Regions from separate parts of the Homo sapiens genome. Here region 2 is linked to region 1. Evidence: fine-mapped expression QTL. Tissue or cell type: whole blood. Region 1 holds a variant in brackets; the other region holds the start of a gene. All regions are shown on one strand. Distances are between the middles of the regions.

Region 1 (7,858 bases):
GTCACTGGACAAGTTTCTTAACCTAAGTCTCCGTCCAAGGTGTTAAGTTCATGGAGTTAACTGAGAAGATCCGTAAGAACAGCCCTATTGAATAGCAGCTTCAGAAAGGCAAAGAATATCACCCTTGTGATTCACTGCTGCATGCCTGGCACAACGCAGGTGCTCAAATGTTGTCTTGAACAAATGGGTGCGAACATCATCTTCCTGGCACCAAATAAACCTTCAATAAATTATACTCAGCATTATGCTTGATTAGCAGATATTTAACTTCGTCTCTAAATTTTCTTTTTAAGCATTCATAGAATGCTTACCAAAAAAATTCCCATACCACGGGAAAAGAAGCTTTAATTAAGTCCAAAAGATAGACTTTATAGCAACATATTTCACCATAACTCATTAAAACAAAAAATCAGCAGTAAAGGAACAATCAAGAAGAAAATTCACACAGCCTTGGTAATTGTGAAAGTGCTCTCCAATGATGTTTAAGAAGTTTCACAGGGTCTGGTCTCTTATTTGTCAATTCTTATTTTTAATGTGTATCTTTATTTCCTATTATTTGAGCAAATGGTTTTCTTGTCATTTTAATCTCTGTTCTCTTGCTCATTTGAGATGCTTTATCAGGTTTGTTCTTCCCTCTCAGGATTTAAGTTTCTTTTCCTGCATTCATTCACTCAGCAAACACTGATGGAGCCTCCCTGCCCTGCCCAGTTCACAGAGCTTTGCTTGTGATCTTTGTTGTCCAGGGAGGAATTTAGATGGTGTCCTCGCCCTTTCTTTCTGGGGCTGCCTTCATTCTGCAGGGGCGGGTCCCGCTGTGTGCAAGCTCCACCATCTACGCCAGAGCAAGGGCTGGCGGCAGAGCCCTGGCCTGGCATCTGGGAGGTGAGATCTTGCCTGCTCCCAAGCTGGGGACTTTGGTCTCCCCAGCAGTCATGGAGAGGCTGAGATTCTTCTGCAAAGGAAGCTGTCCCTCCAGGTGCCCGCCTCACAGCCCTTCCTAAAGTCACGTGACGCACCAGGAGGGAAAAGCCCAGCTCCTTTGCTCAACCCAGCAGGGTCCAGGCTTCGGTGGTCCCTTGATGGACCGGAGGAGGATGGAAGCTCTACATCGGGCAGCTGGGGGCCTCCCAGGGTGAGCAGCCAGTGGGGTGAGTGGGAGCTGCTCCTCCGTCCTCCGGCTCAGTATGCCGCCTGCAGTGTGCGCAGCTCGGGATGACGGCTCAGCACATTTCTGTTGATGGCAGAATCAGCATCTGTCCCATACTTTAGTAATTGGCTCTTCTACCAAGTTTTAGTGTGGTTGGCCAGTTTTTGTGTTTTGGTAAATTTTCATCAATGTTTTAACTGTAAGCAGGAGGCAGCTCAATCTGGAGCTGTAGGCTCTCCTGAAGGTTAACCCTGGGCCTTGCCCCTGTCTCAGATGGACTAACTGAGGGCCAGAGAGGTTAATAAACTTGTCCAAAGCCGGAGCTGTTCGCCAGAGAAAGCCCACTCAGGATCCAGGTTTCTGCGTCCGAGGCCAGCGGGCTTCCCAGGAAGTCATTTTGCTCCAGCAGCCCTGAAGTTCAAAGACAGCCCCATGGGGGGTTTATCAGGGGCCCCCTTCCAGGGTTCAAGGGGTGTCAGTGAGGGCATCTGCTTACATGGTGGCCTCAGGGACCAAGGGCATACCAAGCCTGCAATGCCTGAGGAAAGGAGTCCCCTCTGCTCTTCCAGGCAGTGGGCATGTGGGGCCCACGGGACCAAGGCAGATTCTGAAACGTTGGTCTTGGACACAGGCCAGAAGGACAGTTGGCAACCTGCAGCATGTGGTTATTAAGATCCCATCTTGCAGCACCCCCAGACAGATAGTGCGCCCCAGTTGCTCCAGTAAAGAGATCTTCACAACCCAGGCGTTCAACTGCATCCCAAAGGCCACCACTTCCAGCGAACCTTCCAGGGGCCCAACTGATGCCTGCAGACACCAGACCTGGACATGCCAGGAGGAGATGTCATGCTTAGGGTCTTTGGGAGCTTCAGGAGCCAAAGAATCCAGTATAGTTACCCTGGTGAGAATTTAGGACTGGGTTTGGTTTTGAATTTTTTCTTTTTAAGGAAGACACTTTTTTATTGTATTGTTTGAACATTGAGTCAGCTGGGAACAAAGGAATGCAAGTTTGTCCTAAACAGGACTGTCTTCCGGCAGGAAAAGCACCCAGGAAAAGTGGCCACAGGGTTTTAGCTGCGGGGATGATCTTAGAGGAAAGAAACACAGTGAGCTATGCTGGTGCACAGCCAGGCTGGATGCAGAGTGGAGCCGTCCCTGCCAGGAAACCACCTGGGAGACAGTGCTCCCTCACCCTGCAGGTGGCTTCCAGGGGGAGAATCTGCCCCCTTCAGAATGGCATGAGGATGGAATCCTGCATAGCACCAACAGTGACCAGCCTCAGGCATGGGTGCAGGGGTGAGCTAGCCTCATCCACAGCTTCCACAGTGAACTAGCTTTATCCACACACAATGATGACCTACCCTCAACCAAAGCTCCAGGGGTGAGCTAGCCTCATCTACACGCAATGGTGAACTAGCCTCATCCATAGCTTCCACAGTGAGCTAGCCTCATCTGTAGCTCCAACAGTGGGCTAGCCTCATCCGTACATTGATGGTGAGCTAGCCTCATCCACAGCACCAGCACCAACAGTGAGCTAGCCTCATCAGTGGCTCCAACGGTGACTAGCTTCATCCACAGCTCCAGAAGTAAGCTAGCCTTATCCACACACTGAGGGTGAGCTAGCCTCATTTGCACATCAATGGTGAGCTAGCCTCAGCCACAGCACCAATGATGAGCTAATCTAATGTCGTGCAAGTGTTCAGTCCAGACATTCTGATCCCTCCTCAGGGATGACAAATGGAATACTGCACACAACTTACAATGAAAAATCACCCAATTTTTAAAACTCAACAAATTTTTAAAGTGCTTTTACTGGCCACATACAGAAAGAAACAGTTTCACAGCAAACCTTGCTCCAGACTGCTGTGGTAAAGGATGGAGAGGTGGGGACAGGAGTGGAGGAGGGAGTGGGATGGCCATAGGAGGGGAGGGGAAGCTGGGTCCAGCAGCCCAGGATGTGGTCATGGTGTGACTGGTGCTGAGTAACTGGGAGGACTCAAGAGTGACGATGCCTGGACATCCTTCTATCTCTGACTCATGTTGGGAAGGTCTTTCAAACTCTTTTCATCTTGCAGAGAGGCAGAGCATTCTGGAGACCAACACTTCCTGGGCGGCGCTCAGAGTGGGTGACTCTGCAGAGAGCACCTGCCAGGTGTGATCTCGGACTCAGAGTTCAATCTGCATTTAGCTGACAATGAACTGCAAACTCTGAAAATGTTCACAGCCATGGAGAATAATCTAGAAATCCTCAGTCCATTGGGAAACAGTGTGGGTCAGGGAGTGTAACCAACAGCTGGAGGTGAAGCTGGGACCAGTCAGTGAGGTTAACCACACCAGGGAAGAGGAAGAGAAACCAGTCAGGGCCAAAACGGAGCTTTCATCGATGTCTGAGGGGGCCTTGTCCAT[C/T]CTGTTTGTGGATTTGGTTGTGTGTGCCTGGGTATTAATTTCTTAGGGCCACTGTAACTGCAAACTGGGTGGCGTAAAATGACAGAAACTCACTATCTCACAGCTCTGGAGAACAGAAGTCCAAAACTAAGCTGTGGGCTGGGCCGTGCTCCCTTGGAAGGCTTGGGGAGGCTCCTTCCTGCCTCTCCCAGCTTTGGGTGGCTCCGCCCCTCCTTGGCTGGTGGCTGCAGCACTCCAATCTCTGCCTTCTGCTCTGTCTTCACACGGCCTTCCCTCTGTGTCTCTGTGTCCTCTTCTCCTCTTATAAGGACAACAGTGATGAGATTTGAGGCCTACCCCGCATGCAGATAATCTGATCTCAAGATTATCACCTTAATTACATCTGTAAAGACCTTATTCCTAAATAAAGTTGCCCTCTGAGTTCTGAGTGGACATGAATTTGCAGGGCAGGCTACTCTTCAACCCACTATGGTAAGTACCTAATTTGCTGCATATCTATTTTACCTGTATTAGTACTGATGGCAGTGGCTGTGCCACGCGGCCTGCCGCTGCCATCACATCAGCTGCAACAGGGAGGTGCAGCTGGGGTTGCACATTCTGTGGAACCAGCGGGAGCTGGAGACAAGTGAGAGCCCCACCTCTTCCAAGTTGGGATGGGAGCTCCCCAGGTGCTGCTGCAAACTCTGCCCTAAGCACGGCTGCCCAAAGCTGCAGACCCGGGCCTCCCGCTCCACTGAGCAGGCAGGGGCTCTGCCCTCCTGAGAGGGGGCTGCAGCCACCCAAATTGTGGCTGCAGACCTGGGCCTCCCGCTCCACTGAGCAGGCAGGGGCCCTGTGCTCCTGAGGGGGGGCTGCAGCCACCCAAATTGTGGCTGCAGACTTGGGCCTCCTGCTCCACTGAGTAGGCAGGGGCTCTGCCCTCCTGAGAGGGGGCTGCAGCCGCCCAAATTGTGGCTGCAGATCTGGGCATCCCGCTCTGCAGAGCAGGCAGGAGCCCCGCCCCTGCCCCAGGCACAGCTGTAGCCACCCAAACTGGGGCTGCAGACCTAGGCATCCCTGCACTCTTGGGGGGGCCTGGGAAGGCACTCTTGAGGGGGCCTGGGAAGGAACCCTTGTCCTTGCAGGCTCAGTGGTTTCTGGTCCTGCTGCCTAGCCTCTCCCCACTCCTGGCACCCACTTTGATCTCAGAGCAGAGGTGGGGCCAAGCCCAGGCACTTTCACAGCCCAACCAGGTGTGCACACACTTGGGGCAGTGCTGACATGCCAGCCCCCTGCCCCTTCAGCCCCCTCTGGACTTTGGGCACTGAGGAGCATGGGAGGAGAAGCTGAAGGAGAGTTGAGGGCAGCTGGGCACTGGCCTGCAGGTGCCCCTTGGTGCCAGCAACCTGGGTGCCATGAATGGCCACGGGAGGCAGACAGGCTCCTGGGCAGAAGGGGGAGGGTCCCCAGTGAAGCCCCAGCTTCAGGCCAGGGCAGGCATAAAGCCTGGGGGCTGGGCTGCCAGTTCTGAGGACCAGAGGGGGACATCATGGTGCTTTCTCCTGGGCCCATGCATGGCTGCCTGTGGACCAATCAGCATGCACTTCCCTGCTCTGAGGCCCAAAAAAGCCCCAGGCTCAGCCAGAGCAGGACAGAGGACAGAGAGATGACAGAAAGGATGGATGACTAGCTGCAAAGAGGAGCTACCATCTCTGCTGATAGCGGCAGACAACAGGATAACCAGCTGCAGAGAGGAACCGCCCACTCCAGGGCCTCCTCTCTGCTGAGAACTGAACACTCAACAGGACGACCTTCCCACAGAGAGGAGCTACCCACTGTGGGTCTCCTCTGAGCTATTCTAACACTCAATAAAACTCCTCTTCATCTTGTTTACCTTCTACTTGTCTGTGTACCTCATTCTTCCTGGACACAGGACAAGAACTCGGGCAAAGGTACCACTGGCCACAGAGGTTTCTGGCCAGAAAAGCAACACCCTAAAGATCCCATAACAGACCAAGATGGAGAAAGTGGTACTTACTCAATCTTTTCTTAGGGGACATCGTTTATGAAGCTGGTGGGAACAGGATAACCAGATTGGGTGGGCGATGAGACCCTCAGGGGCACACTTAGCACCAGTAAGTAACTGGCAATAATAAGCTGCTGGTTTAGCAGAGGCCAGCAGGGTTTCCTCCAAGGCTCGTGTGTTGCTGCTTGGGTTTTGCAGGGCTGAGGCCACAGCCCTGTTACAGGGACAAGCAGTGAACCACGGCCAAGGAGGGAAGTGCAGAGTGGGGCCTGCCTGCTGGTGGCACCAGAGAGCAAGGCAGGCTGGAGGGTATCCTCTGGGTAGGCTGCAGGAGTCCTCTGCCCTTCCCTATAAAATCTTAGGTGAAATCCAGATTTTGCTCTAGTGCTTGGCAGAAAATTGTTCTTCCTGGAGAATTCTCTGAGACATACATCAAGGATAAAGGGAGGCAAGAACTGAATTTACATGGAAAGAAAACCAACAACCAGGATGTCAGCCCAGCTCTCGCTTGCAAAAAACTCAAGAGCTTGCAGCCAGGGGTGGGGCTGTGGCCATGGTGCTGGGGGATCAGTTCCTGTCAACCAGTAGCCCTTGCTTAAAAATAAAAAAGGTGGAAGGGGCTTTTGGTCTCTGGGAAGGTGTGTCCTTGAACTGTCTAGGCCCCATGACATTTGGAATCTAGATTCTGGCAGGCATTAGGCCAGCAGCAACTGGTGGGGTCGAAAGACAGGTCTGGGCCTGTCCTTGTCCTGGAGTGTCCATGATGTGGTCTTATGGATGACCAGATGTGCTGCTCACAACCACCATGTAAGAAGGGTGGGGTAGTGGCCGTTAATATTATCTCAGTGCCATGGTTTGGATATTTGTCCCTTTCAAAATTCTGTCGAAATTTAATCCCCAATGTGCCAGTATTAAGATGTGGGACATTTAAGAGGTGATTGGGTCATGAGGGCTTTCCCCTAATACATGGATTAATCCATCCAAGGATTAATGGATCAATTGGTTATCACAGGAGTAGGACTGGTGGCTTTATAAGGCAAACCTGAGCTAGCACACGAGCATGCTCAGCCCCTTCACCATGAGATGGCCTGTACCACCTCAGGACTCTGCAAAGAGTTCCCACTAGCAAGAAGGCCCTCACCAGATGAAGCCCCTCAACCTTGGACTTCTCAGCCTCCATAACTTAAAAAAAAATTCCTTTTCTTTATAAACTACCCAGTTTCAGGTGTTCTATTGTAAGCAACAGAAAACAGACTAAGACACTCAGCATTCTGAGGAAGAAACTGAGTCTCAGTGTTGGCCCCAAGATAGCCCAGCCATGAGATGGCAGAGCCTGATTTCAAAGCCAGGTCATCAGGGATCTGCCATCTCTCACCTTTGAATTCTCTGAATCTCAATCCAGAGCTTTTCCTAGTACAATGTGTTTCCTCTACATCACATATGATGGGCAAGAGATCATGACTTTTATTTTATTTTATTTTATTTTTATTTTACAGTTTTGTAGAGACAGGGTCTTACTATGTTGCCCAGGCTGGTCTTGAATTCCGAGCCTCAAGCCATTCTTCTGTCTCAGCCTCCCAAAGTGCTGGGATTACAGGCAGGAGCCACTGCGCCCGGCCAAGATCATGACTTTTATTGGGAACATCTATTGGCTGCCTGTCTGTTTTGCCCCAGATGTGCCATATCTGTTAACCACCTCATAGTTCTTAGGGGGAAAGGCCTTCCTGGCTCCCTTCCAACTTGCCACTCATTGCCATGCTTGTGCCCACCTTGCGGCTGATAGAGAAGTGCCATAGCTAGCTTCTAACATTCCAGGATTCTGTCATCTTCACTTCTGCCTGGGAGCCCCCTTCTGCAATAGCATCCCCCCAACCTTCCCTGGCCTAAAGAGGATGCACCCCACGGAGCTCAGGGACACTGGCACCCCCTCACTGGCACGTTCCTGTGACTCCACAGCTCGGCGTGTGGCCCCTTCCTCCCCCTGCAGCCCTGCAGGCCCTGGTCGGGTGATGTTGCCCCTCAAATCCACTTGTTGTCTGGTGACCAGGAGGGGAGGTGGGGATTAATCCTTTGTGTGGGGTGTTGTGTGTGTGTGTGTGTGTGTGTGTGTGTGTGTGTGTGTGTGTGCTGTCTTGTAAAGCAGAGGCCTCTGTGTCTTCCCCAAGCAAGGGCAGAGCCCTAGGTTTTAACCAGGGAGGAGGGGGCATGTCCACAGCTCCAGTGGGTCAGGGCATCCAGGGTTCCCACATTTTCATGTGCATGGACTTGGCTATTCCCAGTCCATATCTCAGCATCCCAGT
Region 2 (7,858 bases), 100 kb after region 1:
AAGGCAGGATAGATATCGGCAGCACCCGCACTCCACCATCTCTTGCGTTTCTCTTCCTTTCAGAGGACAATTTAGGCTTTGTGCTGCTGTTGCTGTTAGTCTTGACAGTTTTCTTCACATACGTGAAAACATCCCACATCAAACATTAAAATCACTTACAATGTACTGAAATGTCTAGAGATTCTTTGCTGATGCATATAATTAATGCTTCTTAGAAATGCTACAAATAAAAACAAATGCTGTTTAGCAACATTTTCAGGAAATCAAACCAATTATAATCGTATTGATCTTATAGGGAATAATGAGTTAAAGACAAAAAGAATGACAAGATGTCTGCCTAACGTGCCTGATAAATAAAAACAAGGTGTGTCCAGAATCATTCATGGATAAAATTTTTCCATATTTCTTTTCTCTTCTTTTAGAGTATCTATTTAATGAAACTAGCTTGTTTGAACTACTCAGTTATAGTCCAGTATGTAAAAATAAAAATAAATAGGCTCCTTATAGATCATCAGCTCTCCCACTAACTGTGTAATTATCTATTATATTTTCAAGGGCTTTTTTCCAAACAAGCTCTTGGCACTGTTTTTATTTATTTATTACATGTATTGCATTTTATTTTTCTATAATCTTTAATGGTTACCTATGGCTGATTCTCTAAGTTTTGAGGAGTGCGATTATTTTTAAATGAATTTTAAATGTTCCTACTAAATTCTAGCAGCATCATATCTACTGGTATTTGTTTTCAGTAATTTTCTGGAGGGCAGTCTTAACGATAATTAAAGTGACATTTTCCTTAAACACGGCTCAATGTGTGTGTTTTTAAAAAGATGACATTCCTCATCTGTTTGTTCTTATTTCAGATGTGCTATAAACCATGAATGAGGTAAAGCATAAATGGAAGTAACTAATGGAAGCTCATTATTTAGGCAGCAAAAACCAGAATTAATGTATTACCCCACTGTAGCGTTTAGTACTCAGCCAATCCAAACTTTCCTAGAGAAATATGTGATTGAGACACTTTCCATCTGTTTTTGACAAAGACAGGAGAAGATTCCCACAAGTTATTTTCTGCTGAAAATTATTTTTTAAAAACTATACAATTATCATTATCTCAGGAGGCTCTGCAGCTACAGAATTTTCAGTGACACCAAAATAAAAGCTAAAAAAATGAAATAAAACCCACCTGTGCTGGATCAGCTTTTCGTGGCCTCAGCAACAACATTCGCAGATATTATAGAACCACATAAAAAAAGAAATAGATATGTTTGGGAGAATAGGCGGCCGGGTGCTCTTGATTAATCTAAATTCCTTCTGTGTGAAGTAGAGTCTTTTATAAAAACATCGCAAGATGTGCGAGGAACTAAAACATACTAAGGGGGAAGGATTTTTAACTCGGCCCCAGCAAAAAGAACTCTGTGCCCCTCCATGGCCCTGGATGGCGGATGAGAGAGGGGCTCGCCTGCTCACAGAGCCTAAGGACGGCGCCTCCGTGGCTCGAGCTTGTCTAAAGGGACTTGGAAGGTGTCTGGTGAAAAGGACCCGGTGCAGGACGCCCTAATCGCTCTTCCAGAGGAAACCAGAACTTGGAGTGCTCCTGGCAGCTGTGTCCCCCGAGCCTTCTCCTCGCGCAGGGCCCGGCGCGCACAGCCTCCCTGTCCCCCAGACCCGTTTCCCAGCCTGGACCCCTCGCCCATCCCTGCGGGGCTGGATGGGCGGGGCCCCTCCCGGGTACTCCAGGGTCAAGGTTGGGACTCAGGGCTCCCAGTTCCTAGGTCAGCTCCACCTGCCTGCGGGCGCCCTGGGGCTCCGCGCGGCTGCGTCGGACCCGCCTGCCTCAGCGCTCCAGGCTCTGCGCTCTCGGCCCAGGGCCCTTCTCGGGCACACCCGGCCCTGTGGCTGCTCTGGCCCCGAAGCGCAGGGCAGTTTCCTCCCGTCCTCCCCAGGCAAACCCTGGAGCCGCAGGCCCGCACCTCTACGCCCACTGGGCAGGCCAGGGCGCCGACGGCCGGGGACCCCAGGCGCGAGCAGCTGGGTAGATCTGAGTGTCCGCCCGACGGACGCGCTCTACCCTTGCCCAGGAAGAAAGCGAAGCCATTCGCCCGGCAACACCCGGCTCGGGCAGCTTCGCGGGCGGCCTGCGCTGCGGCGGACGCAAAGGGCAGCTGGTCCTCATATCCCAGTCCCCAGCCGGCCCCAGGAGGTTTTTCTGATGCTCGCTCCTTCCACCGCCAACCACGGACACCCACACACCACCGAGAATGAAAACTGCGACCATCTGTCTAAGTATCTTCAGAACCCGCCGGGGGAGTCACCGGTCCGCCGGTTCCCAACTGACACCCTCGCGTGGAAGTCTGCACTCAGGGGTGTCCCTGGGACTGTGAGCGTCCCGCCCGCCCGCCTTCCTTGCTAAGAGGAAAAGCGCACGGCATCCAAGCCCCCGCGGCCCGCGGGGCCTCGCCGAGGAGACACGAGCAGGCCCCAATGCCCCTGCGCCCCTGCCGCCCGCCCCCCGCAGCGGAGGGCGCCCGTCGCGCGCGCAGCACCTACCCTGGCGCGCCGGTCCGGAGGTGGGTGGCGCGGCGCTAGTGGGAGGCGGACATGGACCACGCGCCCTCCATGCGCCACACGGAGAAGGCGTAGCTGAGGCGCTCGTGGGCCACGTAGCTGCAGCTGGTCATCTTATTGTCCATCTCGTCGCTCTGCAGGACCTGGTAGAGGAAGTCTATGTACCTGGCGGCCAGCTTGAGCGTCTGGATCTTGCTCAGCTTGTCAGAGGGCAGCGTGGGGATGATCTTGCGCAGCGCCGCGAAGGCCTCGTTGAGCGACTGGGTGCGCTGGCGCTCGCGCACGTTGGCCAGGATGCGCTGGCTCTGCAGCTCCTCGAAGGACTGCGCGCTGGGGCTGCCCTTCTTGCCGCGCTTGCCCGGGGTCGGGCTGCCATCTTCGCTCGACTTCTTGCTGTAGCGCCGCTTCCGGCCGAAGCGCTTGGGCTGCCTCTCGAGCTCCTCCTCGCTGGTGCCCAGGCTGTCCACGGGGGACACGGGCGAGCTGGAGCCCTCCTCCATGGCGCCCGCCCGGCGCGCGTGGGGCTGGGGGCGCCGGGGCGCCGAGCGCGCGCCGCTGGCCAAGCCCGCGGTCGCCGAGCACACGCTCTCGGAGTTGCTGGAAAGGCTCTGATTTCAAGGCCGGCTTGTGCAAAACCGAGGTCTCCGGGAGAGGAAGTTATTCTAACTTTTTTGGAAACTCTAGCTGGGCTGGGTTGCTAAATAGTTGTCAGGAGCTAGGGCGGCGCGCTGATTGGCCGCGGTGGCCGGGGGCAGGACAAGTTCTGGGGCCTTCGCCGGCCGCCCCCGCCCCCCGGCGCGGCACTTTCAGTTTTGCCTCCCCCTTCGGCCCCGGCGCGGAGGGCATCCCGGGGGCCGGGTCCTCGCCCGCCGCCCGCGCCCCCACCCCGAACGCAGGGCACTCTCAGGCCGCCCCGAGCCCTAGGCCCGGCCAAGCCTGGCTTTGTCTACGCCTCAACGTAGAGATCGGCCCCCACTGGGCTTTGGGGGGTTCTCTCTCTGGGCGTGAGGGGCTAGAGAGGCGAGTCCAGTCCCAGATGCGCTCCCAGAAGATGAGGACGCAGCCAGGAGCCTCCTCGACCTGTGTGGGTCTTGGCCGCCCCCGGGCGCACAGCTAGTCTGCACCGCGGCCCGCAAGCTTAGGCCTGGGGTCTGGGGAGCTGCGCGGGCAGGGGTCTCGGTGTCCGGACCGCCAGTGTAAGGACAGTCGGGGCCCCCTGGAGACGCCCGTGCCCAAGGACATGCCGCCAAGATCCGTGGAGATGCCACCCTTCGGCCAGCGTGCGTGTCGGGGACCATTTCTTACCCTGGCTTGCTGGGGAGCCCCGGCCCCGACGCCCTTCCCGAACCTTCCTTCTAACAGCTTTAAAACAACGCCACAGCGAGCCTCTGCGGGAGCGCCCGGTACCCGCCGCGCCCGCCTGCCTGGCCCTACCCGGGTTGCTGGGCGCGGGTTGGGGCGCCTGCCGGCCCGCCTTGTACGGCCCCAGCCTCTGCGCTCCGCCTTCGCTTCGCGGGTCAGCAGAGGACGGAGGGCGCTCCGGGAGCTGCACGAGGCTGCCCCGGGCCCAGCCTCCGCTGCGCTGGCAGCCCGCGGGCAGCTCCGAGCAGGAGGCTCAGGGTGGCTGGAGTGTGGGGCCCGGCCTCGGTGAGCGACACCACGGACCCCGGCCCCGGGCCATCTGGACGGCGAGCGCGAGCGCGTTTGAAGTGGTTGGGGGGCTCTTTGTTCGCCAGGCCGCTCTGGCTCTGGGCCTGGAGGTGGTTTTTACGGCTTTGATGCCTTTGAACCTATTCCCAGGTGACCCGGGCTCAATTAGGCCCGGGCCTGAGCCGGGCTGTCAGGCAAGCCGCGTGATCAAGGGCGGGCTGGGCCCTTTTATTGAAGTTGAACCCGAGACCGGGGAGTGCTCGGCCTCCGCTGCTCCTCCGGCCGGCCAGGCGGGCCGCGAGGTGGGGCCCGCGGGCCACGACCACCGCGTTGGGAAACCCGAGGACGGCAAAGAGCGGGCCCTTCGCGCCCCTGTCCGAGGGCCCTGGCTCCGGCCGTTCTAGGGGACGTTTTACCAACAATCCGTCCAGGAAGGCAGAACGCCTAGGAGCGGGCCCTCGCATGCATGTGAGTCGGTAGCAGCGCCCTGCGCAGTGTCCGCGCACCGGACCCGCGGCTTCAGTTCGGTGCCTAAAGGTTCTGCAGAGCCACCGCACCCAGCCCCACCCGGCCTGACCGCCCTCCTTCCTCCGCGCTGGGAAGGCCCACGGCCCCTCTAGCCCAACAAAATAGCTTTCCAGGTCCCTTTCTTTAAAATTCTCAAATAAAAATTTAAGGAACGAGAGAGAGAGAGAGAGAGAAGCCAGGTCCCCAGCCGTCCTGCCGGTGCTGGGCTGCAGCCCTTCCTGGGGCTTCACGTCAGATGGAAAGGGCCTGTTTTTCCCGAACTGGCCTTTCCCTGGTTTCTTTGCTCAGAGCAGTGACAGTAGCGATTTGCTGCCCTTTTACCAACCCTGTGTGGGTCCAAGGACCCAGATCCAGGGACATCTTCCCTTTCCCAGATGCGGAGGGCTTTTACTGAGGAGAGGACCTGCCTGGTAGCCTGCTTCGCCATCCTCGTCTCCCTGTCTGCGTGCCCCTGTGTCACTCTGGCTCTGTCGGCGTGTCTCTTTCTCTGTCCTTTCTGTCTCTTTCTCCAGCAGAGAGAGTTCATAGTTTAGTTTGAAAGAAAAACAGCTCAGCTTTGGTCCTGAGCAGCCCAGGGCTCAGCCCAGCCCTGAAGACCAGAGGCCCCGGGGACGCCCTGGAAGGGCAGCGCAAGCTGGATTGCAGGCTCACCTCTGCCTGGGGAGATGGACCTGGAGGATTTCACCTGCGACCCCCCGGGGCGCCCTGGAGCTATCATAACCAGCAGCCCAGTTCAACCGTCTGGATGCACTTTCTTCATGGCGTGTCTTGTCTATTTTAAAATGCTTTAACAATGATTATAGTACTGGAGGCTGTGATACTGACGGCTGCCTGCGGAAAACCTTGCTTAACAGAATTTGGAGTGACTTTCTTATGCTGTATTGCCAGCCCCTCAGAGTCATTACCTGGGCAGTGACCCCTTGCATACATAGGAGAAGCTAAGGCACAGTGGCATTTAGCAGCGTTTCCAATGTCACCTGTATGTTGGCTGGGGAAGTGACAGCATTCCCCTCTTTTGAGGAGGGGAATTTGCTGAATTAAAACCCAAATGAAAATGTCATCAATTTGGGAAATAATACTCAGGTTATTGATTTAGTTTGAGTTTTTCTTTCAAAAATTAAGTCAGTGATAAGGCTAATAAAGCCAATTTATTAATAGCATAAGTAATACAATATATCTCTGTGTGAATACTCTTTGCAGGACCACCCAGGCTCACTTGGACTTCAGTAAAATATCACGCAACAAAGATTCACAGAAGTAAATACAGTTCTTGGGGTACTTATTCATTACTGAGTATGGAAAATCCTGTGAATGCTTCCTTTCATATATGTAAAAAAGTGTGCTTTGTTTCATGTGACTTTGTGTTTTTTAAAAAAAAATGAACTGGTGTTCTGAAAGATTCTTCTATTGCACATTTTCCTTAGGGCAGCAAGTAACAGAAGGTGATATGTTTTCACAGCAAATTTGCCAGCTATTAGATTGGCTTTAATCTTGCTGCAGTAGAATGACACTGCAGGGATTGTCACCTGGGGATAGTCTTCAAGAATAGCAGCCAGGCACGGTGGCTCGCGCCTGTAATCCCCCAACTCTTTGGGAGGCCAAGGCAGGTGGATCACCTGAGGTTGGGAGGTCGAGACCAGCCTGGCCAACATAGTGAAAGCCCATTTGTACTAAAAATACAAAAATTAGCTGGGTGTGGTGGTGCATGCCTGTAATTTCAGCTACTCGGGAGGCTGAGGCAGGATAATCGCTTGAACCCAGGAGGCGGAGGTTGCAGTGAGCCAAGATCATGCCACTGCACTCCAGCCTGGACGATAGAGCAAGACTGTGTCAAAAAAAAAAAAAAAGAAAGAAAAGAAAGAAAAAAGAATACGACGCAATTATACAGCCCCTGGGCTTTCTTAGGATAAGAAACTGTGTACTTGCTCAGATGTGAAAAAAATTTAGTAAACTCTCAGGAGCTAAATAAAGCAATGAATTTATACATTTGAATGCTGTTGTCGCTACCTTTTGTCAAAATGCCTGCACGGGTGAACCCACCTGAGCTCTTCAGCAGATCCTTTTGTAGTTTAACTCTATGAAGTTCTTGTTGGAGCAAGAGACAAAAACCAAGATATCGTTAAAGGTCTAGTTTCCATTCCCAGTGACATGGTGGGTTGTTACCTCCACTTGAATTTAGTGAACTGAGAGCAGATGACAGAGCAGCCCATATTTGTGTGACAGAATCAATCCAACAGATTAATGAATCAATGACATTGATCCGGGGGTTGGTAACAGCATCTCCCAAACAGCACTTCCTTATTTGCAAAGCAAATAGCATTGGCGCAGTAGCAGTCTTACACTAACACAGCGCTCCACTGACACTTTTCCATCAAACTAGTCTTGGTGCCTTCATTTTGAATTATTCTCTCGTAGACTGAGATGACAGTGAACATGACCCATTATTTTAAGAAACCACAAGTTTTCAGAGATGGACTCTTGAGAATTATCTGACAAAGTTTTGGCATTTCTGTGTAGATTCTAGGGGTCTTCAGCATCATGTTGCTGAATGCTAGAAATATGCTGTCTGGGAAAAAGCTATCCTTGTGCCATGTATTGTTGGCTTTATTCTGGCAATACTTTATGCCTACCTGCAACCACCTGCCACCCCCCAAGATTTCAATCATCCAGCACATTCCCCAGTGTGATAGAGCAGCGGTGAGGGTTGGGGGTCACTGTAAAAGCATTTTTCAGTTCTAAAAACCAGGGTTGAAGATGCTTCTCGAATCTAGTTGTAAAGTGCAATGTATTCTTGGTGATGGGCATCAGAACACTTTCTGGATGTCAAGTCCAAGAGCCAATCTTCTGCCTAACTTCAGCAATGACACCAGCAGGATGGAATCCTACTTACAAAGAGCCAGAACCTAAAGCCCAGGGCACACATCCTGTACAGGCAGGATTCTCCTTTAAAAATCCCAACTGCTACTTTGGGAGGCCAAGGTGGGCAGATCACTTGAGGTCAAGAGTTCAAGACCAGCCTGGCCAACGTGGCAAAACCTCATTTCTACCAAAAATACAAATAATTAGCTGGGCATGGTGGTGTGTGGCTGTAATCCCAGCTACTCTGCTGGCT

What was found. PIP is the estimated chance that this variant, and not a neighbour inherited with it, causes the effect.
Region 2: it holds the start of TWIST2, and the variant in region 1 is fine-mapped to the expression of TWIST2 in whole blood (TOPMed, PIP above 0.99). The same link has a PIP of 0.9 or more in blood mononuclear cells.

Annotation. Positions count from the first base shown.
Region 1 is chr2:238,943,897-238,951,754 of GRCh38, reverse strand. No RefSeq gene overlaps it. Among named protein-coding and RNA genes, the nearest start is that of LINC01940, 22 kb to the right of the region's middle. The variant C/T (reference allele first, on the strand shown) is at 3,554.
Region 2 is chr2:238,843,426-238,851,283 of GRCh38, reverse strand. It overlaps TWIST2 (twist family bHLH transcription factor 2), which reads right to left and starts at 3,199. Exons shown (of 2, transcript NM_001271893.4): 1 at 2,551-3,199. The coding sequence starts at 3,068. The coding sequence ends at 2,586. It overlaps LOC100287387 (a long non-coding RNA gene), which reads left to right and starts at 3,377. Exons shown (of 1, transcript NR_157851.1): 1 at 3,377-6,738. RefSeq lists enhancers at 1,688-2,198, 2,199-2,708, 4,242-4,752, 4,753-5,263.